Linked DNA regions of Homo sapiens. The protein of the gene in region 1 purifies or fractionates together with the protein of each later gene. This does not show direct contact. Each region holds a gene or a part of one and is shown in the gene's direction. Other genes may lie near its edges. The genes, in order: NCAM1, FPR2, NCAN, OAS1, SRPRB, SLC15A1 and OSBPL11.

Evidence for each region.
Region 2: the proteins of NCAM1 (region 1) and FPR2 purify together in Homo sapiens (co-immunoprecipitation; one large-scale study listed by IntAct). This does not show direct contact.
Region 3: the proteins of NCAM1 (region 1) and NCAN purify together in Homo sapiens (affinity purification with western blotting, with the first as the bait; one study listed by BioGRID). This does not show direct contact.
Region 4: the proteins of NCAM1 (region 1) and OAS1 purify together in Homo sapiens (co-immunoprecipitation; one large-scale study listed by IntAct). This does not show direct contact.
Region 5: the proteins of NCAM1 (region 1) and SRPRB purify together in Homo sapiens (co-immunoprecipitation; one large-scale study listed by IntAct). This does not show direct contact.
Region 6: the proteins of NCAM1 (region 1) and SLC15A1 purify together in Homo sapiens (co-immunoprecipitation; one large-scale study listed by IntAct). This does not show direct contact.
Region 7: the proteins of NCAM1 (region 1) and OSBPL11 purify together in Homo sapiens (co-immunoprecipitation; one large-scale study listed by IntAct). This does not show direct contact.

Annotation. Positions count from the first base shown.
Region 1 is NC_000011.10:112,964,420-112,967,919, forward strand, and holds part of NCAM1 (neural cell adhesion molecule 1 isoform 2 precursor), read left to right. Parts: intron 1-3,500.
Region 2 is NC_000019.10:51,767,606-51,771,031, forward strand, and holds the end of FPR2 (N-formyl peptide receptor 2), read left to right. Parts: intron 1-1,039; 5' UTR 1,040-1,053; coding exon 1,054-2,109; 3' UTR 2,110-2,926; downstream 2,927-3,426. UniProt on the Homo sapiens protein: Low affinity receptor for N-formyl-methionyl peptides, which are powerful neutrophil chemotactic factors. Binding of FMLP to the receptor causes activation of neutrophils.
Region 3 is NC_000019.10:19,214,958-19,218,457, forward strand, and holds part of NCAN (neurocan core protein precursor), read left to right. Parts: intron 1-1,989; 5' UTR 1,990-1,996; coding exon 1,997-2,069; intron 2,070-3,500. UniProt on the Homo sapiens protein: May modulate neuronal adhesion and neurite growth during development by binding to neural cell adhesion molecules (NG-CAM and N-CAM). Chondroitin sulfate proteoglycan; binds to hyaluronic acid.
Region 4 is NC_000012.12:112,913,462-112,916,961, forward strand, and holds part of OAS1 (2'-5'-oligoadenylate synthase 1), read left to right. Parts: intron 1-3,047; coding exon 3,048-3,277; intron 3,278-3,500.
Region 5 is NC_000003.12:133,804,469-133,808,614, forward strand, and holds the start of SRPRB (signal recognition particle receptor subunit beta), read left to right. Parts: upstream 1-1,346; 5' UTR 1,347-1,380; coding exon 1,381-1,534; intron 1,535-2,140; coding exon 2,141-2,235; intron 2,236-3,277; coding exon 3,278-3,355; intron 3,356-4,146. UniProt on the Homo sapiens protein: Component of the signal recognition particle (SRP) complex receptor (SR). Ensures, in conjunction with the SRP complex, the correct targeting of the nascent secretory proteins to the endoplasmic reticulum membrane system.
Region 6 is NC_000013.11:98,746,173-98,749,672, reverse strand, and holds part of SLC15A1 (solute carrier family 15 member 1), read left to right. Parts: intron 1-3,500. UniProt on the Homo sapiens protein: Electrogenic proton-coupled amino-acid transporter that transports oligopeptides of 2 to 4 amino acids with a preference for dipeptides. Transports neutral and monovalently charged peptides with a proton to peptide stoichiometry of 1:1 or 2:1.
Region 7 is NC_000003.12:125,553,998-125,557,497, reverse strand, and holds part of OSBPL11 (oxysterol-binding protein-related protein 11), read left to right. Parts: intron 1-3,500. UniProt on the Homo sapiens protein: Plays a role in regulating ADIPOQ and FABP4 levels in differentiating adipocytes and is also involved in regulation of adipocyte triglyceride storage. Weakly binds 25-hydroxycholesterol. Interacts with OSBPL9 to function as lipid transfer proteins.

The DNA of each region.
Region 1 (3,500 bases):
TGGTTAAGTCACATGTTTACTTGATAATTTTGCAGTCTTCTGCCAGTTAAACTTGCAAGAGTCAAGGAATGGATAGGACTGGGTTTCTAACAAGATACCATCGGTTAAGAACAAAGAGCTACTTTACAAAAGCTAACATTGAAATCAAGTAGTATATATAATATCTCTCACTAAGCAAATTAAGGTGCGCTTCCACAAAGTTGACTGTGAGCACAGTTATAGTGAGCCATATATTTTTGTTGATTTTCATTTGAAGACTGAGAATGTGTGTTTTTAAACAGAATTTCACTGAATGTAATAAAGGCTATATAAGAATGTGGAAAACCTTTCACAACTCTAACCAAACCCTAGAAAGATTATTTTCTTTCAATAAATACTAGCATATTTAGAAATATTAATAACTGATAATTTGTTTTAAATCCAACAGAGTTATTAAAAACAGGGAATATAATCCAGACATTGTAGACGTGTGGGCTATGATTTATGTAAGTTTTTGAGTTACTATTCCCTCTATAAAGGTCTTAAAGATCTGCTAACCTAGCTAAGCTTCCATTAGTCTTTAACTGTTTTCTTAAGTTAATGCTTTATGAACGCCCTCTTTCTTTCCCTAAATTGTTGAACCTGATAACTTCCTTCCAGATACCTTTATCTAGGATTTTTTTTTTAAAAATGGAATACCAGAAAATAGCAGGACATATTCTTGTTTAGTAAAGGAGTTTCCTCTAAGTCTTACAATGATAATTGATTAAACTAAGAATATGTTGATTTAACTGGTGACTGGTTTCTTGAGTTTGATAGTTCAAGAATTAAGATAGTAATTGCAAAGAAAAAAAAATCCCACATCAAAACTGAAAAAAAAATGATGTGGGTGTGCTATTTGTAAGGGATGTGGGTGTTTACTGAAGGCAGCAATAAGAAGGAGAAATTAGTCTGTAGCACCCCCAAATTCCAAGTTTTGAACAGTGCTTCTGTTTGGAATCCATTTATCATTAATTGAATTCCTCAGATAGGTAATATGTAATTTAATGGAAGTAACCTATATCTGTATTTTTCTGTCACAAGGAACAATGTCTTAATTGCCTTTCAAAGTAAACAGCACCATTTTGTCACTCAAAAGCTAATCTTTAGACATGTTTTTGTTCACTACAGAACCCAGTTTCTCAAATTATAGAGAGCATTTTGTAAAATTTACACTGCTTAAATAATGGACTCTGGAATTTCTGATGCAACCACTTAATTTTTCAAGGTGATGAAGCCTCTGTTAAGTATGAGTTTGATAAATTTCTCATAATTTTGTCTTTAGTATTAAAGAACTGTGGCTGCTCTCCAGACTGAAAGTGGCTTCAATACTACTGGCAGGCTTCCAAAGACATTTTACAGACAGTCCTTTCTGACTTAGTGTAAAATAAGTGATTGAGTACCTGTTGCTAAAGAACGGGTTGCACTTTTAGGATCTTGAGCTTGTGATGGAGAGCAGAACCAATTGGCAGGCCAGGGAGAGAAGGGATCGCACCTGCCCCCGTCAGTCTGCGGGAAGAATCATAGACTAGGAGGAGACAAAGACATCTTATAAAGGCTCTCCTGCACCAGTTCAGCATTGCTTTTTTGAGCACACACATGTTTTCTGGTGTCAAGATAAATATTTTAATGTAAATTCCATAATTGATCATTTTTCAGTTTAGCAGTTATAACATATAGACTAAGGAATGTCTGGAACTTTAAAAGAAATGGCAGCACATTACAGGGAGCATTTTACTGATCTTAAAACTGGGTTACAAATTACACAAAATTGAAAACATTAATCACGTGGCTGTATAAAATGAAGTCATTTGAGCTTTTAATAAAAGTCACTAAGGTGAAAATTCCTTTGGTTAAAAAGAAAGAATTCTAAGTAAAATTCGAAGAAGAAAATTTTTTACTTTTCATAATATACTCAGTGACTCTGAGCAATGCTGTAAGAGATGGTCTTTTAGGAAGGAGGAAATGTCCAAGGACCTCTGAATCCTAATGATTAGGTTTCTATGAGCTCCAGAGTTTTCACTATTCGAAAACATTGTAGTGAAACTATTTTTAACAATACAGGTAGATATGCTTACTACTTACTGTAGGGTAATAGAATACAGAAGTCAATCTGAAGGTCATAGTCCTGTTACCTCTAGCCTCTTTTGTTATTAACTCTTGGGGCCAAACCTTAAAACCATTTGCTGATGTAAAGGGATGTAAATTATTTGGCGTTGGCAGTGGTGCCATTATGCCTTTTCATTTCATGTTGTTGAAATACTGTCTCTCAGCTGCAGATGCTCATTAGGAGCATTGCTTTTTGATGTTGGCCTGGGTGCCAAATGGCGGCCTTTCAGGCAGTTTCAATACGTTACATTTAAAACATGCTCAGGCCATGTCTACATGCAGCCACTGAGTTAACGGATTTTCAGTTGGGTAGACACACTTTTCCTTTCCTGCAGTATTAATTTAGCTTCTAAGCAATTGGAGACTCCAAGAGGACTGCACTAAAAGGATAAGCTATTTGGTGTATCTTGTGTATGTGTGCTTTTGAAAAACAGATTGTAATAAACCCATTATGCATTCTATTTTCTTCCATATATACGTAACACTTTCTTGAATTCAAAGATTGCATGGCTGATATGATTTAAAAGGCTTCTATGTAACCTATATTCCACTTCGTACTCTGAGGACTTTTTGATTTGTAGCTGCAAACATGGGTAACAGCTGATCTTCCGTTTTCTATTTGGCGTCATTCCTGAGATAAGGTGTAAAATGCCTTTTGTTGTACATTAATCACCTCCTTTGGTATCTGATTACCTCATCATTTAAGAATATTCATAGTAATGTCACACTGTTTGAGATTGTGTTACATTAGGTATTCTCTTAAATAGTTGATCAAATATGTTTATTGAGTGCCAGCTTTTTATCATCTGCTCTGTGGGGAATTAAAAGGAGTGAGATGACATAATTTCTGCTGTCAGGGAACCTTGGGAGTAGTAGAGACTAGAGATTAAGAGAGGTAGATAACCCTGGGTTGAAACCCCAGACATATCCCTTACTAGCTGTCTGATCTCAGACAAATGATTTAACTCCTTCAAGTTTCAGTTTCCTCTTCCGTGAGATCGGAAAATTAGTAATGCCTACTTGTTAGAGTTATAAATATTTTAGAGATCTTAGGACTTCAGTGCATGTAGGCAGTGTTCATTAGTGAGCAAGAAGGATATATATGGATCTGGAAAAAATAATTATTTAGACATAGTGCCCTCTTTTTAGAAGGATTTTAAAAAGGGTATTATGATACACAGGACTCCTTCAGAGATTAGAACTAGGCTTAAAAAATTGGTCACTAAATATGCCTGCAATTCCATGTTGGTTGTGAATACTTCAGAGAAAAAAATGGCCTGATTATAAGGTTGAAAACCATCAGCACAAGGGTGGATCTAGGTCTTGTTGGGCCTGAAGGGTATATAATTTTGAGGGCCTTCTTTAAGGAAAAT
Region 2 (3,426 bases), on another chromosome or scaffold:
TTCAAGCAGAGAAGAATGGGGAACCGTTGCTGGGTGGGCAACCAGCAATATCTGTCAAGCGTAAGGGTTTAGAAGTCAGACCATGCCAAACTGAAGTCCTGAATCTATTATCTACTACCTAAGTGACCTTCAACACATTTCACAATTGCCCTGAGCTTTCATTTATTCTAATGAAAACTAGAAGTAATGAATATTACATAGCTATTACATAGGCCAAACCGGATCCCATATGTAGTAATTAACACAATGCATAGTCTCTAATAAGAACTTCACAAGTATTAATACAACTTATTATTCTTATAGTCTTTATCCCACAGACACCAAAGCTATACAAATCGGCACTGATTATTTGCATTCCAAACAGAGAAGAGCTCCACATCAAGCAGGGACAGGGAAAAGCAGAGGGTAGAAAGCAGAGATGGAACTCTCTTTGCTGACTTCCTCTAGTGCAGAATCCTCAGGATATAACATACTACTACATGTTACCAGTGACTCCTCAAAATTCTCTTCAACAATAACCTCAAGCCAAACCCTCAAACTTTATCTTGAGTACTAGCCAAGCAATAGGTCAAGGGTTCTCACAGTTTGAGGGACAGGAGTTGGGAGACTGGAAGAACCTGGGGCTGAAAGAGATTGCAGAGCTTGCCAGCATGTTTGCATTGAATGGTGGGAGACACAGATGTGAGCCTTCTGATTCTGAGTCATGTGCCTTCCTCACAATGCTGAGGCTGCCTATGCTCAATTTTCCATTGTCCATACAACATAAGTTCAGTATGAGCCTTGTAATCCTCTTGGTGAAGTGATCAGCCCGATAAGCGAAATGCATATTGATAATGATGGGAATATGGAGGACTATCCCTTCCCAAAGGAGCATCCAAGAGAATGCCAATTCTATAGCACCGTTGTCAACAAGGCTTGGTAGATAGAGTGGGTCTCCTGGTAGGAGTGGGAGCTTTAGTGGAAGTTGATGTGAGCTATAAATACAGATGCTGTAAGATGGTTCCACAGCTGAGAAATGGCCATTGTTGGAATGTTTCAGGTGCTGCTGGCAAGATGGAAACCAACTTCTCCACTCCTCTGAATGAATATGAAGAAGTGTCCTATGAGTCTGCTGGCTACACTGTTCTGCGGATCCTCCCATTGGTGGTGCTTGGGGTCACCTTTGTCCTCGGGGTCCTGGGCAATGGGCTTGTGATCTGGGTGGCTGGATTCCGGATGACACGCACAGTCACCACCATCTGTTACCTGAACCTGGCCCTGGCTGACTTTTCTTTCACGGCCACATTACCATTCCTCATTGTCTCCATGGCCATGGGAGAAAAATGGCCTTTTGGCTGGTTCCTGTGTAAGTTAATTCACATCGTGGTGGACATCAACCTCTTTGGAAGTGTCTTCTTGATTGGTTTCATTGCACTGGACCGCTGCATTTGTGTCCTGCATCCAGTCTGGGCCCAGAACCACCGCACTGTGAGTCTGGCCATGAAGGTGATCGTCGGACCTTGGATTCTTGCTCTAGTCCTTACCTTGCCAGTTTTCCTCTTTTTGACTACAGTAACTATTCCAAATGGGGACACATACTGTACTTTCAACTTTGCATCCTGGGGTGGCACCCCTGAGGAGAGGCTGAAGGTGGCCATTACCATGCTGACAGCCAGAGGGATTATCCGGTTTGTCATTGGCTTTAGCTTGCCGATGTCCATTGTTGCCATCTGCTATGGGCTCATTGCAGCCAAGATCCACAAAAAGGGCATGATTAAATCCAGCCGTCCCTTACGGGTCCTCACTGCTGTGGTGGCTTCTTTCTTCATCTGTTGGTTTCCCTTTCAACTGGTTGCCCTTCTGGGCACCGTCTGGCTCAAAGAGATGTTGTTCTATGGCAAGTACAAAATCATTGACATCCTGGTTAACCCAACGAGCTCCCTGGCCTTCTTCAACAGCTGCCTCAACCCCATGCTTTACGTCTTTGTGGGCCAAGACTTCCGAGAGAGACTGATCCACTCCCTGCCCACCAGTCTGGAGAGGGCCCTGTCTGAGGACTCAGCCCCAACTAATGACACGGCTGCCAATTCTGCTTCACCTCCTGCAGAGACTGAGTTACAGGCAATGTGAGGATGGGGTCAGGGATATTTTGAGTTCTGTTCATCCTACCCTAATGCCAGTTCCAGCTTCATCTACCCTTGAGTCATATTGAGGCATTCAAGGATGCACAGCTCAAGTATTTATTCAGGAAAAATGCTTTTGTGTCCCTGATTTGGGGCTAAGAAATAGACAGTCAGGCTACTAAAATATTAGTGTTATTTTTTGTTTTTTGACTTCTGCCTATACCCTGGGGTAAGTGGAGTTGGGAAATACAAGAAGAGAAAGACCAGTGGGGATTTGTAAGACTTAGATGAGATAGCGCATAATAAGGGGAAGACTTTAAAGTATAAAGTAAAATGTTTGCTGTAGGTTTTTTATAGCTATTAAAAAAAATCAGATTATGGAAGTTTTCTTCTATTTTTAGTTTGCTAAGAGTTTTCTGTTTCTTTTTCTTACATCATGAGTGGACTTTGCATTTTATCAAATGCATTTTCTACATGTATTAAGATGGTCATATTATTCTTCTTCTTTTATGTAAATCATTATAAATAATGTTCATTAAGTTCTGAATGTTAAACTACTCTTGAATTCCTGGAATAAACCACACTTAGTCCTGATGTACTTTAAATATTTATATCTCACAGGAGTTGGTTAGAATTTCTGTGTTTATGTTTATATACTGTTATTTCACTTTTTCTACTATCCTTGCTAAGTTTTCATAGAAAATAAGGAACAAAGAGAAACTTGTAATGGTCTCTGAAAAGGAATTGAGAAGTAATTCCTCTGATTCTGTTTTCTGGTGTTATATCTTTATTAAATATTCAGAAAAATTCACCAGTGAAGCCAACTTGGTCTTGTGTTTTCTTTCTGGGAAGATTTTTAATAACAAGTTTGTTTTCTTTAACAGTGATTAGACTCTTCTGTTTTTTGGTTTTTTGTTTTTTCCTATCTGTCAGTTTTGGTAAACTGAATTTCAAGGAGTTTGGCCATTTCATTCAAACTGTCAAACTCATCGGCATAAAATAGTATAATAACTGTTTAAAAGTTATAAAACAGCATGAAACTTGGCTGGGTGCGGTGGCTCATGCCTGTAATCCAAGCACTTTGGGAGGCCAAGAAGGGTGGATCACCTGAGGTCAGGAGTTTGAGACCAGCCTGGCCAACATGGTAAAACCCCATCTCTACTTAAAATACAAAAATTAGCTGGGCATGGTGGTGCACACCTGTAATCCCAGCTACTTAGGAGGCTGAGGCAGGAGAATTGCTTGAACCCGGGAGGTGGAGGTTGCAGTGAGCCAAGACTGTGCCATTGCACTCCAGCCTAGGGGACAAGAGTGAGACTTTGTC
Region 3 (3,500 bases), on another chromosome or scaffold:
TTACAAGTTGGTAGTTGGGAGCACTGGTCCAGGGTCTGGCTTTGACCTCTACCCTGCTGTGCAGCCTGAGGCAAACCTCTAGCCCTCTCTGGTCCCTGAGGCATCGTGTTAGCAGGCAGGAGGCAGGGGTGGACTAGGTGGGCTTTGCCGCTGCGTTGCCGCCTCAGAGTTCAGCACCACGGACAGGTCCCAGGCCGGCCTCCCAGCAGGGGACTCTGGGAGCTGGGAAGGAGAACTGGGGAAAGGGACAGCTGTCACATACAGCCTCCCCTTCTGGACTCCGTTCACACCCCTTCCTCAGGGATAATTTCTTATGGGGGCGGGGAGCAAGGATTGGGTTTGCAGATGATGTTCTAATTTTCCATCTGCGCCCACCTCCTGAGCCCTGGTGACCGGGGTTCGCAGGAGTGGGAGGTTTTGGGGAGGGACCACCTCCCCAGGATTCCTAGTCTCTGGAACAATGTGAAGTCAGGAAATGCACTGCTGTGTCCCAACGACTGGCATGGGCTTTGCTCACAGTAGGCGCTTAATAATTGTCCACTTTATCCCTATGGGTCCTAGCCCCTATAGGGAAATGGACCCACAACTGAAGTTTCTCTGTGGGCCTAAGAAGTATCTTTGTTGAGCTGTGTGAAGTCAGGAGGAGGATGGGTGGGCAGGGGTGAGCCCCTTCCTCCAGCTGGGAGTTGGCGGCTCCTCCAAAATCCCAGAAACCAAGAATAGAATCTTGGTGACAACCAAATCCTGGAATTGAAGCTGCGAATCGTGTCAGCCAGCAAACCCAGATTAAAGGATGGCTTAGAGGCCAGCCTGCTGCCTGGACTGAGGATGCTGGGAGGACTGGGACAGACTGCTGCCCTCTAGGAGCCGCCAGTCTGATGGAGGAGGCTGACTTGAAAAATGGTATTTCAGTCTTGGCTGTGTTAAGGTCGGTAATAATAATAGCAGCAGCTAAAATGTACCCCTTACTGCATGAGACAGTTCTAAGCATTTTATATGTATTGACTCATCCATTCCTTTCAACTACCTGATGTTATCCCCATCTGACCCACAAAGAAAGTAAGGCACAGAGAAGGTAAGCAACTTGCCCAAGATCACACAAAAGGAACAGTGAGCCAATTCCAGATTTGATTCACTACCAGCACCCAGGCTTCTGACCACAGACTTCATTGCTTGGATTGTTTTTTGTTGTTGTGTTGTGTTTTGTTTTGTTTTCAGTCTCGCGCTGTCACCCAGGCTGGAGTGTGGTGGTGGAATCATAGCTCACTGCAGCCTTGAACTCCTGGGCTCAAGCAATCCTCCCACCTCAGCCTCCTGCATAGCTGGGACCACAGGTGTGCGCCACCAAGCCCAGATAATTTTTTTTTTTTTTGAGACAGAGTCTCACCCTGTCGCCCAGGCTGGAGTGCAGTGGCGTGATCTCGGCTCACTGCAACCTCCACCTCCCGGGTTCAAGTAATTCTCCTGCCTCAGCCTCCTGAGTAGCTGGGATTACAGGCGCCTGCCACCACGCCCAGCTAATTTTTGTATTTTTAGTAGAGACGGGGTTTCACCATGTTGGTAAGGCTGGTCTCGAACCCCTGACCTCGTGATCCACCCTCCTCGGCCTCCCAAAGTGCTAGGATTACAGGCGTGAGCCACCACGCCTGGCTGCTAATTTTTTAAATAGAGGTAAGATCTCACTATGTTGCCCAGGCTGGTCTCAAGCTTCTGGCCTCAAGCAGTCCTCCCACCTCAGCCTCCCAAAGTGCTGGAACTATAGGCGTGAGCCACCGCGTCCAGCCACTGCTATTCTGAGGTCAAGTGGCCCTGGGTTCGAATTCTGGCTCAGCCCTTTGCTGGCTCCTTCTGTGACCTAGAATAACACACTGGTCTCTCTGAGCCCTGGTTTCCTGATCTGTAGAGTGGGGGAGTTTGGTCCTGCAATGCTGAATATCTGGGAGGGTTGGGCTGTGGCTCACCCCTCCCTCCCTCTCCATTTTGTTCCAGATCCAGGATGGGGGCCCCGTTTGTCTGGGCCTTGGGCCTTTTGATGCTGCAGATGCTGCTCTTTGTGGCTGGGGAACAGGGTGAGTTGGTTTGTGGGGAGGGAGAGATTGGGGTCTAGGGGATGGACAAGATGGGGCAGCTTTTGAATTCCAGAGCCTTCTCCTGCTGGTCTCCTGGCATGGGCTAGAGAATAAAATGAGAATAGATTTTAAAAGGTCTTTGAACAGTCAAAAGCGAACAGGATACCTAAGAGGTTATTTTTAGTCATTGTCAGCAGAAGCTGGAGATTCCCGCCTCTCATCGTTTTGCTCAGATGAACTGGAGAGAAAGAAAGAAAGAAATGAGAATAGTGCAGAGATTGATTAGTGATGTCTGCCAAGGGTGGAGCGATGGAAATAAAGGTCTGTGTCCCTCTACTGGTGGTCAAGAGCCCAGGTTTTAGAAATCCCTCACAGATTTGGTCTGTGACCTTAGGCAAGTATAATTATCTCTCTGAACTTCAGTTTCCTCAACTCCCCCCAAAGAGAATGAGACATTGCTACTCTGCAGATGGTTATGAAAATCAAATGAGCTGATTGCTATAAAGTGCCTGTTACAAAGATGGTACTCTGCAAACACCATTTCCTTTTCATTAGCTGTCTTTTGCTTTACCTTTCGGAAAAACTGGGGCTCAGGGAAGGAAAATGCCTCTCCCAGGGCCATACAGTGAATCAGTGGCACTGGAGTGAAATCCCTGTCCTTATAAAAATAAAGTGAGGGGCTAGGCACAGTGGTTTATGCCTATAATTCTAGCACTTTGGGAGGCTGAGGCAGGCAGATCACTTGAGGTCAGGGGTTCCAGGCTAGCCTGCCTAACATGGTGAAACTCCGTCTCTACAGAAAATACAAAAATTAGCCAGGTGTGGTGGCACATGCCTGTAATCCCATCTTCTCGGGAGGCTGAGGCATGAGAATCGCTTGAACCTGGGAGGCGAAGGTTGCAGTGAGCCGAGATCATGCCACTCCACTCCAGCCTGGGTGACAGAGTCAGACTCAAAAAAATAATAATAAGGCTGGGTGTAGTGGCTCACCCCTATAATCCCAGAACTGTGGGAGGCCAAGGTAGGTGGATCAGTTGAGGTCAGGAATTGGAGACCAGCCTGGCCAACATGGTGAAACCCATCTCTACTAAAAATGCAAAAATTAGCCAGGCGTGGTGGCACACACCTGTAATCCCAGCTACTGGGGAGGCTGAGGCAGGAGAATTGCTTGAACTTAGGAGGCAGAGGTTGCAGTGAGCTGAGATCATGCCACTGCACTCCAGCCTGGGAGATGGAGCGAGACTCCATCTCAAAAGTATAAATAAATAAAAGAATAATAATAATAAGGGGCTGGGCACAGTGGCTCATACCTATAATCCCAGCACTTTCGGGAGGCTGAGGTGGGAGGATTGCTTGAGTCTAGGAGCTTGAGGCTGCAGTGAATCATGATCATGTCACTGCATTCTACCCTGGGCGATAGAGTGAGACTCA
Region 4 (3,500 bases), on another chromosome or scaffold:
CTTCTAGAATTCCAATTAAATGTATGTTAGACCCTGCTCTATCTTTCATATCTCTATACTCTCTTCTGTGTTTTTCATCCTTTTGTCTATTTTTCCATGCTTTATTCTGAATAGTTCCTTCTAATCTACCTTCCAATTAACTAATTTTCTCTTTAGCTATATCTAATTTGCTGTAATTAATTACAGTTGCCATTTTTATCCTAAAATTTCTATTTCATATTTTTGTATCTGCCATGGTACTTCTTATGGCTTTTAATTCCCTGCTAACTATTTAAAGTTCTTATTTTATCCTGTGAATATGATATTCCTAGTTATTTTATTTTTAATTTTTATTATTTGTTAATCTTATGTTTTATTTACACTTCTTTTCTGTGACATGAGCACACACAGATTCATGTGTATACATATATGGCTCTGATACCTCTCCTTTCCTGTCCTCATTCAAACCACTGATCACAGAGAGAGGACTATTTTTTTTTATTTTTAATTTTTCTATTTCAATAGGTTTTTGGGGGAACAGGTGGTGTTTGGTTACATGAATAAGTTCTTTAGTGGTGATTTTGGTGCACCCATCACCCAAACAGTGTACATTGTACCCAATGTGTAATCTTTTAACCCTTGCCACACCCCACCCTTTCCCCGCAGTCCGCAAAGTCCCATGTATCATTCTTATGCCTTTGCTTCCTCATAGCTTAGCTCCCACATATGAGTGAGAACATACAATGTTTGGTTTTCCATTCCTGAGTTATTTAATTAAAATAATAGTATCCAATTCCATCCAGGTTGCTGTGAATGCCATTATTTTGTTCCTTTTTATGGTTGAGTAGTATTCCATGGTGTGTTTGTGTGTGTATAACATTTTTCTTTATCCACTCATTGATTGATGGGCATTTGGGCTGGTTCCATATTTTTGCAATTGCAAATTGTGCTGTTATAAACATGTGTGTGCAAGTATCTTTTTTGTATAATGACTTCTTTTCCTCTGGGTAGATACCTAGTAGTGGGATTGCTGGATCAAATGGTAGATCTACTTTTAGTTCTATAAGGAATCTCCACACTGTTTTCCATAGTGGTTGTATGAGTTTACATTCCCACCAATGGTGTAAAAGTGTTCCCTTTTCACCACATCCACACCAACATCTATTATTGTTTGATTTTTTATTATGACCATTCTTGCAGGAGTGAGGTGGTATCACATTGTGGTTTTGATTTGCATTTCCCTGATAATTAGGGATGTTGAGCATTTTTCCATATGCTTGTTGGTATTTGTTTTTTTTTTTTTTTTTTCATTATTATACTTTAAGTTTTAGGGTACATGTGCACAATGTGCAGGTTAGTTACATATGTATACATGTGCCATGCTGGTGTGCTGCACCCATTAACCCGTCATTTAGCATTAGGTATATCTCCTAATGCTATCCCTCCCCAATTCCCCCCACCCCGCTTGTTGGTATTTGTATATCTTCATTTGAGAATTCTCTGTTCATGTCCTTAGCCCACTTTTTGATGAGATTTTTTTTTTCTTGCTGATTCGTTTGAGTTCTTTGTAGATTCTGGATATTAGTTGGATGTATAGATTGTGAAGATTTTCTCCCATTCTGTGGGTTGTCTGTTAACTCTGCTAATTATTTCTTTTGCTTTGCAGAAGCTTTTTAGTTTAATTAAGTCCCATCTATTTATCTTTGTTTTTGTTGCATTTGCTTTTGGGTTCTTGGTCATGAAGTCTTTGCCTAAGCCAATGTGTAGGAGGGTTTTTCCAATATTATCTTCTAGAATCTTTATGGTTTCAGGTCTTAGATTTAAGTATTTGATCGATTTTGAGTTGAATTTTGTATAAGGGGAGAGAGAAGGATTCAGTTTCATTCTTCTACATGCAACTTGCCAATTATCCTAGGACCATTTGTTGAATAGGGTGTCCTTTCCCCATTTTATGTTTTTGTTTGGTTTGTCAAAGATCAGTTGGCTGTAAGTGTTTGGCTTTATTTCTGGGTTATCTATTCTGTTCCATTTGTCTACGTGACTATTTTTATACCAGTACCATGTTGTTTTGGTGACTATGGCCTTACAGTATAGTTTGAAGTCTGATAATGTAATGCCTCCAGATTTGTTCTTTTTACTTAGTCTTGCTTTGGCTATGTGAGCTCTTTTTTGGTGCCATATGAATTTTAGGATTGTTTTTTCTAGTTCTGTGAAGAATGATGGTGGTATTTTGATGGGAATTGCATTGAATTTGTAGATTGTTTTTGGGAGTATGGTCATTTTCACAATATTGATTCTACCCATTCATGAGCATGGGATGTGTTTCCATTTGTTTGTGTCATCTATGATTTTCTTTCAGCAATGTTTTGTAGTTTTCCTTGTAGAGTTCCTAGTTATTTTAAAGTCTGTGTTCGGTCTTTCAGCATTTAAAGTTTGTAGGTTTATTACTATTTCTCTTCTTTCTGTTGGTCATAACTCTTAGTGTTTTGTTTCCTTGTGTGCCTGGTTACATATGTGCTGGTCATTGTATTTGAAAATTATGTGTGAAATAATTTGAGGTTTTGGATTATGTATATTCCTCCAGAAAGAATTTCATTTGCTTCTGTGCATTTCTTAGGAACATTACAAGTCCTTCTTCTCAGTTAATTTTCGTAGTATCTTTATCAGATAGGTGCTATTACAACCACTCACTTAGCAGATGAAAATCATGAGGCTCTGAGAGTCTAAGTCATCTACTTAGAATTGGACAATGGTGAAGCCAGGATTCAAACCCACATCAATAAGAATCCAGCGCTCTTAACAAGGGGCCAGTACACTTTTTTAAAAAATAAAAGGCTAGATAGTAAATATTTTAGACTTTGTGGACTGCACAGCCTCTGTTGCAACTACTCAACCCTGCCTTTGTAGCATGAATGCAGTCATAAACTATACATAAATGAATGAGCCTGGATTCGTTCCAAGGAAACTTTATAAAAACAGGTGGCAGGCTGGATTTGGCCCATGAGAAGTGTAGTTTACACAAAAGTTGAGCAAACCAATTTTTTTCTGATTGTTTTTCCTCTTCTCAGTGTAAGAAGAAGCTTGGGAAGCTGCCACCTCAGTATGCCCTGGAGCTCCTGACGGTCTATGCTTGGGAGCGAGGGAGCATGAAAACACATTTCAACACAGCCCAGGGATTTCGGACGGTCTTGGAATTAGTCATAAACTACCAGCAACTCTGCATCTACTGGACAAAGTATTATGACTTTAAAAACCCCATTATTGAAAAGTACCTGAGAAGGCAGCTCACGAAACCCAGGTATGCTATCCCCACATGGCTTAGCTCCCCTATGTAAATGAACACCTGGATACAGGTACAGTGCCTTGGAAATGGAGGAGGTGGGAGGGCTCCCCACTTAGTGAGAATCTCCTGTTGCCCATCATTGTACTGGGCATTTTACTACTGCCATCTGTTTTAAACACCTACCTCCAACCCTGTGAGGCAGGCACTATGCCAATTATTTTACAGGTGAGTAAACTGA
Region 5 (4,146 bases), on another chromosome or scaffold:
GAGTCAGATTCCATAATTGTTTTAAGATAATTATCCTTGGCTACAAGGATCAAATGGCAAGGATGGCATCAGTACTAGGTTGGACAGGGAGTTGCTGGGTAGCCGTCCTAACAGATGTATTTTTTTGTGTGTAAGGTTGCGATGGCCTTTGTGCAAGTCTGTGGTTTTTGCAGTCTTTTGTGACAGTTTTTGTCATCAGGCATGGGTGCCTGAGAACCCTCCCTCCATGGCCTTTCACCAGCTCCATTTTTCTGATTAAAAAAAAAAATACAAGTGACTCCATTTTGATGCTGACAACTTTTTCAATGGCAATGTGGAACTGTAATAAACTTTTTTCAATCTTTCAGTGACACTGACATCTTCATGTCTCTACTCAGCCATACAATTAAATTAAATAATGTGTACATTTTAAAACAATGACAGCTGTTTAATGACAGAGACTGTGAACTGGGACCCTCTAGGCTGGCCACTTTTGGTGTTTTATTTGGGCCACAAGTTTTTGAATGCTTTCAATTACCTACAGAAAATTTCAAAAGTGGAAAATTTCCTATAAAAATCTGCCTTTATTGCTTCTCTTGAAAACTGGAAGAACCGGCCACCCAGGTCCCATAACACCTACCTGGCTGAATAGGGTCGGCCCTACTTTCAGCAGAAATACCTCCTGCAGTTTTCAACAGCCCCAGCTCTCCTGGGCGTTGATTTTCCTAGTTGCTTCCTTTAATGCAGACATTTGAGTTTGCAGCCCTAGATTGACAGTGTAGGGGCACTGAATTACTTAGGGTTCCCACATACATCGTTTCTTACACTCATTTTCTTCTGCACAGCACCTTTTTTTCCTTTAACCACTCGCAGATGCTAACTCATTCTTCAGGACTCAATTCCAATGTCCAGAAGCTTTTCTCTGAACTCATGATGGACTCCGCGTCCCATTATGTATTCCCACATCGCTCCGTACATCCATCTGTCACATCCCTTGTCACATTAAATTCAGATTAAATGTTTGTAGGATGCTTGAGTTCTTCACAAGTCTCACGTCACTTAGCGACGGTCGGGAACTCCTCAGTGGTAGTTTCGGGAGCCATTCATTCATTTTATTCATTTCATCATTCTTTCAACAGTCATAACGTAGGTGACGACGACTGACTCATCTCTTAAAAGATGTGTGTGTCCCTCGACAAATAACCTGTCTGCCCCTATCGTTCTGTAGGAGGACGGAGTCCCAGAGAACTACAACTCCCATCAAGCACTTGGGGGATCGCCGCGGCTGAGGGAGAGACTATGGCTTAGGAACCACCATTCGCGTGAGGCTCTGCTCCCCGCGCCTGCGCAGAGTGCAGGGCCACGTCGCTTTTGCTGTACCGGGGACCACGCGTCTCATCCATGGCTTCCGCGGACTCGCGCCGGGTGGCAGATGGCGGCGGTGCCGGGGGCACCTTCCAGCCCTACCTAGACACCTTGCGGCAGGAGCTGCAGCAGACGGACCCAACGCTGTTGTCAGTAGTGGTGGCGGTTCTTGCGGTGCTGCTGACGCTAGGTAAAAGGCGGCCGGTGGTCATGGCGGGTTTGGGGCGGGCAGAGGTCCGGGCTTTGGCTGCACCGCTGCAGGCCGGGGACGCGGGGCTGAGAGGGCGCCTTGAGGGCATCAGGAGGGTGAGACCCACCCAGTCTACACCCCACCCTCTCTCCTGAAGCAGCGGCAGCAGCTGGGCGTTAAGGGGGATGCCGGGCAACCCCCGGAGTTAACGTCCTGGTCCTTGGGGCGCAGATTGCTCTTCGTCATCTGCCCTGTTACGCTTGAGCGCGCTGTTCCTCGCCTTCCGCTGTTCTCACTGCAAAGACTCAGGGTCTTGACACCAACTTTCAGCCTCCCGTGTTTGCGTGCGGGCGCTGGGATACCAAGGTAGTGAGATAGCACCTGAGTCCCAGTCAGAGTAAGGACTGCAAAGAAAAGTTGACAGTTGACAGTGCCTGGCTCTCAGTGGATCCCTAACAACAGCAATAGTAACCATTATGATAAAAGTCAGTTCCAGGTGAATGAGGTGTTTCGTCACAGACTTCTGTGAATTTCCCCACCCCAGCCATGCACATATACTGATTCCCAAGGCGTAATTTTTGTTGTTTTTCTCTGTCTATTCCACAGTCTTCTGGAAGTTAATCCGGAGCAGAAGGAGCAGTCAGAGAGCTGTTCTTCTTGTTGGCCTTTGTGATTCCGGGAAAACGTTGCTCTTTGTCAGGGTAAATGATTTCATTGACACCCCTGTTAAGCTTAATAGAAAATTTTATAGATCCCAGTATTCCTGTCATCTCACGGTTTATTTTGTAAAAGAAGCTGATGCTGTTAAATTTGGAAGTTAATTCTTGACTTACTTGGGAGAACAAAAAGACTCGTAGAAACCCATAATTGAGAAATATTGGTCATTTCTCCTTTTTTTTTTCTGTTTGCCCTTGCCAGATGCTGATATTTAGTCTTTATCACATTCAAGGATTTTATTTAATTAGTTTCATTCCAGAATAGCAGAAGGCATAGAAGCTAGTGTCCTACAGTTTATAATTCCTTCGTTAACAAATTCTTAGGACAGTTTATCGAAGACACTTTTTCACAGGGTGATCCTTCTTTGACATAGTGGGCTAGTTAGGCTTCTTTTTACTAATATTTATTTTTAATACATTTAGTATTTTTAACAGTGTATTTTAATGTGGTGAATAGGAGAGGTTTTCTGCTTTTTAACTCTTCTTTTTGAGAGTATAAATTATTTCCCTTCCATTAAAGAAATACCTCCATTTTTTTTTTTTTTTTTTTTTTGAGGGAGTGTCTCACTCCAATGCCCAGGCTGGAGTGCAGTGGCGAGATCTCTGCTCATTGCAGCCTTGACCTCTGGGACTCAGATGATTCTCCCACCTCAGCCTCCGAGTAGCTGGGACTACAGGCGTGCAACACTACGCCCGGCTGATTTTTTATATTTTTTGTAGAGATGAGATTTTGCCATGTTGCCCAGGCTTCAAATCATTTTTGTTGGTTAAAAATCTTTACAGAAGCTTGGCAAATTTGGCCACTAACTGTCTTTTGAGAATAATGTTGTTTTTATTCCACTGAGGAGTAAAATATGCAATTAATTAGATTTTTTTCTACAGGTAAAAAAAATCAATATCGTCTTTTTCACCTGTCGGAAGCAGCATTCATTTACTTAACCTTACACCTGGGAGACTTAGAATAATATAACTCAATTTAGGTGTGCTATTAAAATGTTGAATATCACCCATCTTGTTTTTTTTACAGTTGTTAACAGGCCTTTATAGAGACACTCAGACGTCCATTACTGACAGCTGTGCTGTATACAGAGTCAACAATAACAGGGTAAGATGTTTGTGGAGTTTTGGAGTCTGACAGTCTTACTTTACTGTGGTGTGTCAGTTAAGGACATTTTTAGGATGAGTTCATCTGAGGATGTAAGTACCATTTGTAGCTTATTTTTATGGAGAAACATATTCTTTGTGACAAATTCTCTTGACAATCTGTACAGTAGATTTAATCATGCCCTCCTCTGCATTGTTGTACCTTAATGTACAGTAATGTTATATCACATTTTATTCTTATTTTTTGTTTCTGTGTCTTCTTTCCAACTTTACAATGAGTTCTTAAGAGTGGGCATTAAACCTTTTAAGTTTTGAATAGGTAATACATGCACATGGGACAAAAATTCAAAAGGTTAGAAAAGATATTTGGTGAAAAGTAATTTTTCCTTTCCTTTCCCCACTACCTAGTTTTCTCCTCAGAAGCAGTGACTTACTTTTTTTTGTATGTAGTCTTCCGGATGTTCTGTGCATATACAAACATGTCTGTATATCCTTTATTGTTGTTTTTTTTTAAATGCTGTTCTGCCCATTATTTTTCTCATACGGCTGATACAACTTGGGCTTTTCTTATTGTCCTACATTTGTATACATAGTACCATCTGGTTGGTTTATGAGCTGCATAGTACTCCACTCTGTTGCTATACCATAAAATTAAATTCTTACTTAATCTGGACCGTGTTAATAGACATTTAGTTTTGTTATTATAACCTTTGCTTTTACAAACAGTGCTGCAATGGATATCTTACAGAGTATATATGAGTGTATTTCAAATATAAGGAATCATGGGGCCTG
Region 6 (3,500 bases), on another chromosome or scaffold:
AGATGTTCTTTTCCCAAGGGCTGTCAGGTTGAATTCAGTCTCTGAATAGCAGAAAACTTCTTATATGCTGGGAAGAAGCGTCAGTAAGAAAAAGCAGCCTCCGAAGCCTTCGTAGGATCATAGGGCTGGGGGTGCTTTTGCTGAAGGTTTTGACTATTTGATCTCTTTCCTCCCACCCCACCTCACTCCCTTATCCAAAGCTTAGCAAGACTATGCTAAATGGACTCTGAAAATTAGGTACAAGGCTTCAGGTTCAATGCAGCAAGCACCTGCCTCTATCTGCCAAGACCTCCAGGTTGATTGGAGATACTCACTCACTTAAAGTAGGATACTTTATTCTCTTCCTGCCCCACCAGATCTCAGCCTCCTGGCTGGCCTTGTTTGTGATTCTGATAGGTTTTTCCAAGTCAGCTGCCTGAGCTTAAAATGATGGATGGGCTGTGAAGGTCCCTCACACCTGGTGCGTCCCTCCACATTCTCTCCTCCTCCTGTCAACTCTTGAGTCAACCGAAGAACAATATTGAAGTACCAGGGCAGCTGGTGTCCCTGCTGCAAGCTATAGAGGTGGTCCCACACTGAAGGAAGCCTTTGGCATATGACCTTCGGGGGAACTCACCTCCTCCTAGCCAGCAGCAAGAAAAGAGAACTTCTAACATTGGGTTCTTTTGGGCTAATATTGCTCTAAGTCAGCGTTTTTCAAACTTGAACATGCATCAGGCTTATCTGAGTGAGGGCTTGTTCCAGCAGTGGGGCTCGCTGGGCCTCTTGCCTAGAGTCTCAGGTGCAGGGTAGAGCTCATGCACTGACATTTGACCACGTTCCCACGTGGTGTGATGCTGCTGCTCCCAGGCCCACGCTTTGAGAACCACGACTCTAAAGATCCCCTGGGTTCTTTTTTTTGACCCCTGCCCATGTGAACATGTTGCCACTGTGCCCTAAAATTAGGCTGTGGGAAGGTCTAGTACAGTCTGGGCCCTGGCTTGTCCATGTGGGTACATGTCCGTGATGATGAAGCATTGGGTAAATTAGCAGGTAGAACTTGAGAATTAGTCTGCCGGTGCCGTCTTAACGTAGGGATAGCTGGGCACTGCGGCTTACGCCTGTAATCTCAGCGTTTGGAGAGGCTGAGACAGGCGGATCATTTGAGCTCAGGAGTTTGAAATCAGTCTGCGCAACATGGCAAAACCCCGTCTCCACAAAAAAAATACAAAAATATTAGCTGGGCATGGCGGTGCGCACCTCTAGTCCCAGCTACTCGGGAGGCTGAGGCCAGAGGATCACTTGAGCCCAGGAGGTGGAGGTTGCAGTGAGCTAAGATTGCTCCACTGTGCTCCAGCCTGGGCAACAGAGAAACTGTGTCTGAAGCAACAACAAGACAAAAACAAAGAAGTAAAGAGAGTAGAAATGAATAGGAGTGAGAAATGAATGTGGTTCAGCTGGGCTGGCCAGGATGCACCTGAATTGCATATCTATGCAGGTATTTACTTAACCATGTGAGGATAAAAATAATCCTGCCTGAAGAAATTATATCCTCAGGGGGCAGGAACATAAGCCCGTAAACAACACTCTTCCACTCCGAGTTAGAGTTGAGGAAAATGAGGTACTATGAGACCAGTGAAAGCAGCAACTAGGAGTGTTTGTCTGAGCAGGAGGGTTTGCCTACTTTAGGTTTGCCCAGTTTGGATGGAATGCTAAATGTTTGCATGGTCTTTCACGTCTCTTACAAAATGTCCTGAGTAAGATTATTCCATTTTCGATTCCCTTGGGTTTTTTTGTTTGTTCATTTGTTTTTTGAGATGCAGTCTGCTCTGTCAACCAGGCTGGAGTGCAGTGGCACAATCTCGGCTCACAGCAACTTCTGCCTCCTGAGTTCAAGCAATTCTCCTGTCTCAGCCTCCAGAGTAGCTGGGATCACAGGTGCGCACCATCACACCTGGCTAACTTTTGTATTTTTAGTAGAGACGGGGTTTCACCACGTTGGCCAGGATGGTCTCAAACTCCTTACCTCAGGTGACCCGCCTGCCTTGGCCTCCCAAAGTGCTGGGATTACAGGCCTGAGCCACTGTGCCAGGCTGGGTTTTTTTGATTAATAATTTTTTTCTACTGCCCTTTGAGTTACTGAACCATTCCATGAAGAACAAACAGGGCTTACTCAATGGGCTAGTTGAGCTACCAGGAATCCTCCCTAGAAAATGGGACTGCTACTCTATTCCCCATGGTGGAGCTGCTGATGACTGGGGGCCTGGTGTAGAACTTTGGAGCTAAGACTTCCCAGCCAGGTGTGTTCCCATGGTGGAGGCAGAAGCTCTCAGACACAGTTGCGTCTTGATTCTATGCTTTGCAGGATGAGAAAGTGGGTAGGTGTCCCAGGTGAGCCGATAAGGAAATAAAAACAAGGGTCAGGCCTGAGGAACCTTTCCACATTCTTCCTTGAGGACAGTGAGAGAAAGAGCAGTATTCTCAGCTGAGCGAGCACGGTTGACTCATCATCCCGGGGTTGCAACACCAAGAACCAGGGAGTCACTCTTTTGTACCTTTGTCCCTTGGTTTCAGAAGCTGGAAGTCTATTGCGGAGGACACTGGACCCTGGGTTCACCTCATGGATGTGATACAAAGGAGGCTGTGTCAGCCGGGGTGGGGGGGGCCACACCTCTTCTCTCGGCCCCTCTGGTTTTTGGGGTTTAGGATGAGGGCAGCTATGAGAACACAGTTAAAGCACAGGCTCAGCCGTTGGGAAGTGCCACAGCCACGGGGCACAGGGACAGGGTCTTCCACAGAGGCTTAAGAAGGAGGAAGGTCTAGTTCCTCTCCTGGTTCCTAGACTGGAAACTGCTCAAAGCTCCTCACCGGGCTGCGGAAAGGGGTCTCTCATTGGAGAGAGGGTTTAGAGTCCTCCAGGTATGATGTGGGGATATGGAACAACAGGTCCATGTCCAGAGGGAATTTTGGTTCAGAGATCAGATTAACAAATAGAAAATTCACAAAATGTACTTCCATAAGAAGGCTCGTTAAAAGTTCTCAAACTAGGCATTTAGAACTTCTACAATCTGCCCCTAGTGACAAGATTTTATTATAAGCTCTATTAGGACATGGCAGATGTTTATACATTTGAGATGTTCTTGAGGAAATAAACGTTTTTCCTTTTTTTCCATTAAATCAAAACACCTTGCAGAGAAAAGGGAATGCTTATACACTGCTGGTGGGAGTGTAAATTAGTCTAACTATTGTGAAAAGCATTGTGACAACTCCTCCAAGAACTACCATTTGACCCAGCAGTCCCATTACGGGGTATATACCCAAAAAAATATAAATCATTCTACCATAAAGACACATGCACACATATGTTCACTGAAGCACTATTCACAATAGCAAAGACATAGAAGCAACCTAGATACCTGTCAATGATAGACTAAAGAAAATGTGGTACATATACACCACGGAATACTACGCAGCAATAAAAAAACAACAAGATCATGTCCTTTATAGGAACATGGATGGAG
Region 7 (3,500 bases), on another chromosome or scaffold:
AGGCAGGAGAACCGCTTGAACCCAGGAGGCAGAGGTTACAGTAAGCTGAGGTTGCGCCACTGCACTCTAGCCTGGGCGACAGAGCTAGATTCTGTCTCAAAAAAAATAAACAAATAAATAAAAATAAAGAGCCTGGTGACTAAACTGCAGTCACAGCTACCTCTTATCTAACAATAACACTTAATTAACAAATATTTACTGGGCCCCTGTTATATTCCAGACACTGTGCTAGGTCTTGGGACAGGAACAAATAAGATAACCATGGTCCTAGCCTTCATGTTGTGAATAAGTAATATGCATTTTCCTACTGTTCATTTTGTTTCTTTTTAAATAATATTATGAAATTATATAAACACAAAATTTTAGAAAACTAAAGAAAATCTATCATTTTACTACCCTAACATAACAGAGCTCTCACTTTTATCTTTCTTCACATTGTCATAGTTTATATGGAATTTTGTTTTACTTCCTTTTTTCAGTTAATTTTTGTGTGTATGAAATGTGTTAAACACACAGAAGACTGAATGGTATACATATAAACATTCAAAGAAAAAAGATAAAATGAATACCCATGTATCTACCTCTGACATTAAGTTGTAGAACACTGCCTGAACTTGGAATCTCTGAGTTCCCCTCTAATTTATAGTCCTCTACTTTTTCCTCCATAAAACAATTTACTTGACTTGTGTGTTAATTATCCCTCTACTTTTTGCTATAGTTTTACTGCTTTTTTGTACTCCATAATGATGTTTAGGAAAAAATGAATAGCTAACATAAGCTTAGCATAAGGAAAGGACTGTGTTGCCATTTGTAGAAAGCAGCTCCCAGAAAAAGACAAGTTAAACATTTGAGTCTCTGGCTTTAGCTTCTTATAAGTTATTGAGAAAGTTTAGAAGAGCCCTTTCTTGTGAAATTATAAGGCAAAGTTGTGAGTCCTGTAAAATATACATCCCAGAGCATTTGGTGTGAGTCAGCTACAGGAGGAATGTGGGCTGGGGGAGTGAGCTGCTCAGTATTTTCAGTTTCAAAGCAAACTGTGACCTACCTCCAACTCTGAGGAATAGATTGAAGTCAGAAGGCTTCTTTCGGGGAAATGAGCATCTTCAGCCAATCCAGACAGCAGAACATGGAGAGGAGACTAAGAACTTCACCAGCAGATAGTCAACACAAGCCAAATACAGATACACTTGGGATCAGTTTCACTAGGCTATTTTATCCTGAGGTTTGAAAAGATGATACAATGGCAGCATGAAGCATGTGGATGACAGTCTTCAGTATGTCTGTCTCTTGAGTCACATCACTCTAATCTGGACCAGTATTTCCTTTAGCATTCTCTTTGGCTAATCCGTTTACTGTATCCGTTTCTTCTTTCTTGGTTGCCTCTCATTTTGTTGGAATATATCCTCCATTAATTTCTCAGAAAGATTTGTAAGAAGCGAATGTGAAAATGTGTGTCTGAAATGTCTGTGTTGCCCTCGTGTTTCATTGCTGGTTTAGATAGAATTTGTTACTTGTGGCCAGGTGCAGTGGCTCACGCCTGTAATCCCAGCACTTTGGGAGGCCAAAGCAGGCAGATCACTTGAGGCCAGGAGTTTGAGACCAGCCTGGCCAACATGGCAAAATCCCCTCTACTAAAAGTACAAAAATTAGCCAGGCATGGTGGCACATGCCTGTAATCCCAGCCATTCAGGAGGCTGAGGCACAGGAATCACTTGAACCTGGGAGGTGGAGGTTGCAGTGAGCTGAGATGACGCCACTGCACTCCAGCCTGGGTGACAGAGCGAGACTCCATCTCAAAAAAAAAAAGATAATATCTCCGTGCTGCAGGGTTCTAATGAAAAGACTGAAGTCATTCTGATTCCTGATCTTTTGTTTGTGACTTGTTTTGTATGTTCTTCTCTCCAAAATTGTTTAGAATCTTCTCTTTATCATGTCTTGGTATTGTGACATTGATGTAGGTTTCTTTTATCCATTGTATCTGGGCACTTGGTGGGCCTTTTCAGTGTGACAACTCATGTTTTTGAGTTCTCTGAAATTTTCTTGAATTATTTCTTTGATGATTGTATTAGGGTTCCTAGAAGGACAGAAATAAGAGGATAGATGTATATATAAAGGGGAGTTTATTAAGGAATATTGACTCATACAGTCACAAGGTAAGGTCTCATAATAGGCCATCTGCAAGCTGAGGAGCAGGGAATCCAGTCCGAGTCCCCAAACCTCAAAAGTAGGGAAGCCAGCAGTGCAGCTTTCAGTCTGTGGTTGAAGGTCCAAGAGTCCAAAAGCGAAGAACTTGGAGTCCGATGTTCAAGGGCAGGAAGCATCCAGCAGGGGAGAAAGATGTAGGCCAGAAGACTCAGCAAGTCTAGTCCTTCCATATTCCCCTGCTAGCTTTTATCCTAGCAGCTGATTAGATGGTGCCCACACAGATTGAGGGTAGGTCTGCCTCTCCCAATCCACTGACTCAAATGTTAATCCCCTTTGGCAACACCCTCAGACGCACCCAAGAACAGTACTTTGTATCCTTCAATCCAATCAAGTTGACACTCAATATTAACCATCACAATGATTTTTCTTTCTTCTATTTTGTTTGTTTGTTTGTTTGTTTTCTCTGAAATCCTTATTATATGGCCATTGAACTTCCTGGTCTGGTCTTTTATTGTTCTCTCATACTTTTCTTTTTCTCTCTTTGTCTGTCTTCTGTGTTATGGGAGATTTCCTCGCCTTTTATCTTTTAACTCTTCTTTTGACTTTTAATTATTGTCATGTTTTTAAATTTTCTGATTTTTTTAAAAAGCATTCTTGTATGTATATAATATCTTCTTAATTCTCTGAAGATATTATTTTTTATTTTTGTTTTTTCCCCTCCTTTGAGGTTTCTGTTTCCTCCAAATCTGTTTCTTTATTTTGTTCTTTATATTCCTAGTTAGAGGTTTTCTCAGAAATCAGATCTTCTGCTCACAATTAAGTTTAGGGAAACTAAAATCTGATTTTAAGCTTTAACACGTAGGTGGCGCCTATGTTTTTCATTGTCCCATAATCTGGATGGGCCATTTGTTGGGAGACTTGGTGTCAGTATCATTAGGTTTTTCTTCTAGGTTTAGTCAAATTTCCCAGAAGAAAAATTTTTTCATCTCATACTTGGTGACTCCAAAAGGAGTTAAAAAGGAGAAGAAGGCTGCATGAGAGAGGGTGTTAATAGCTAACGTTTAGTTTATATGGAGTTATTAAATGCCCTTGTTATGTATCACTTGGTATCCACTCTCTTAGAATTCCTTGCTATTCTCCAGTCTAGAGAATAGACCACCTTGTTTATCCAGAGGCTAAACCTCTAGACTTTGAGGTCCAAGAGGGTAGTTACTAACAGTGTGGAGTTGGGGGTTTGAGTTAGGCATCTAATTGCTTTCCATACAGATTTTACTCAGTTATTTTTATTTTATCATTTCTGTGAATCCCCAGATCCAGAGGTACCTAGTGCGATCAGCTCCTGAGCCTTTTTAGGA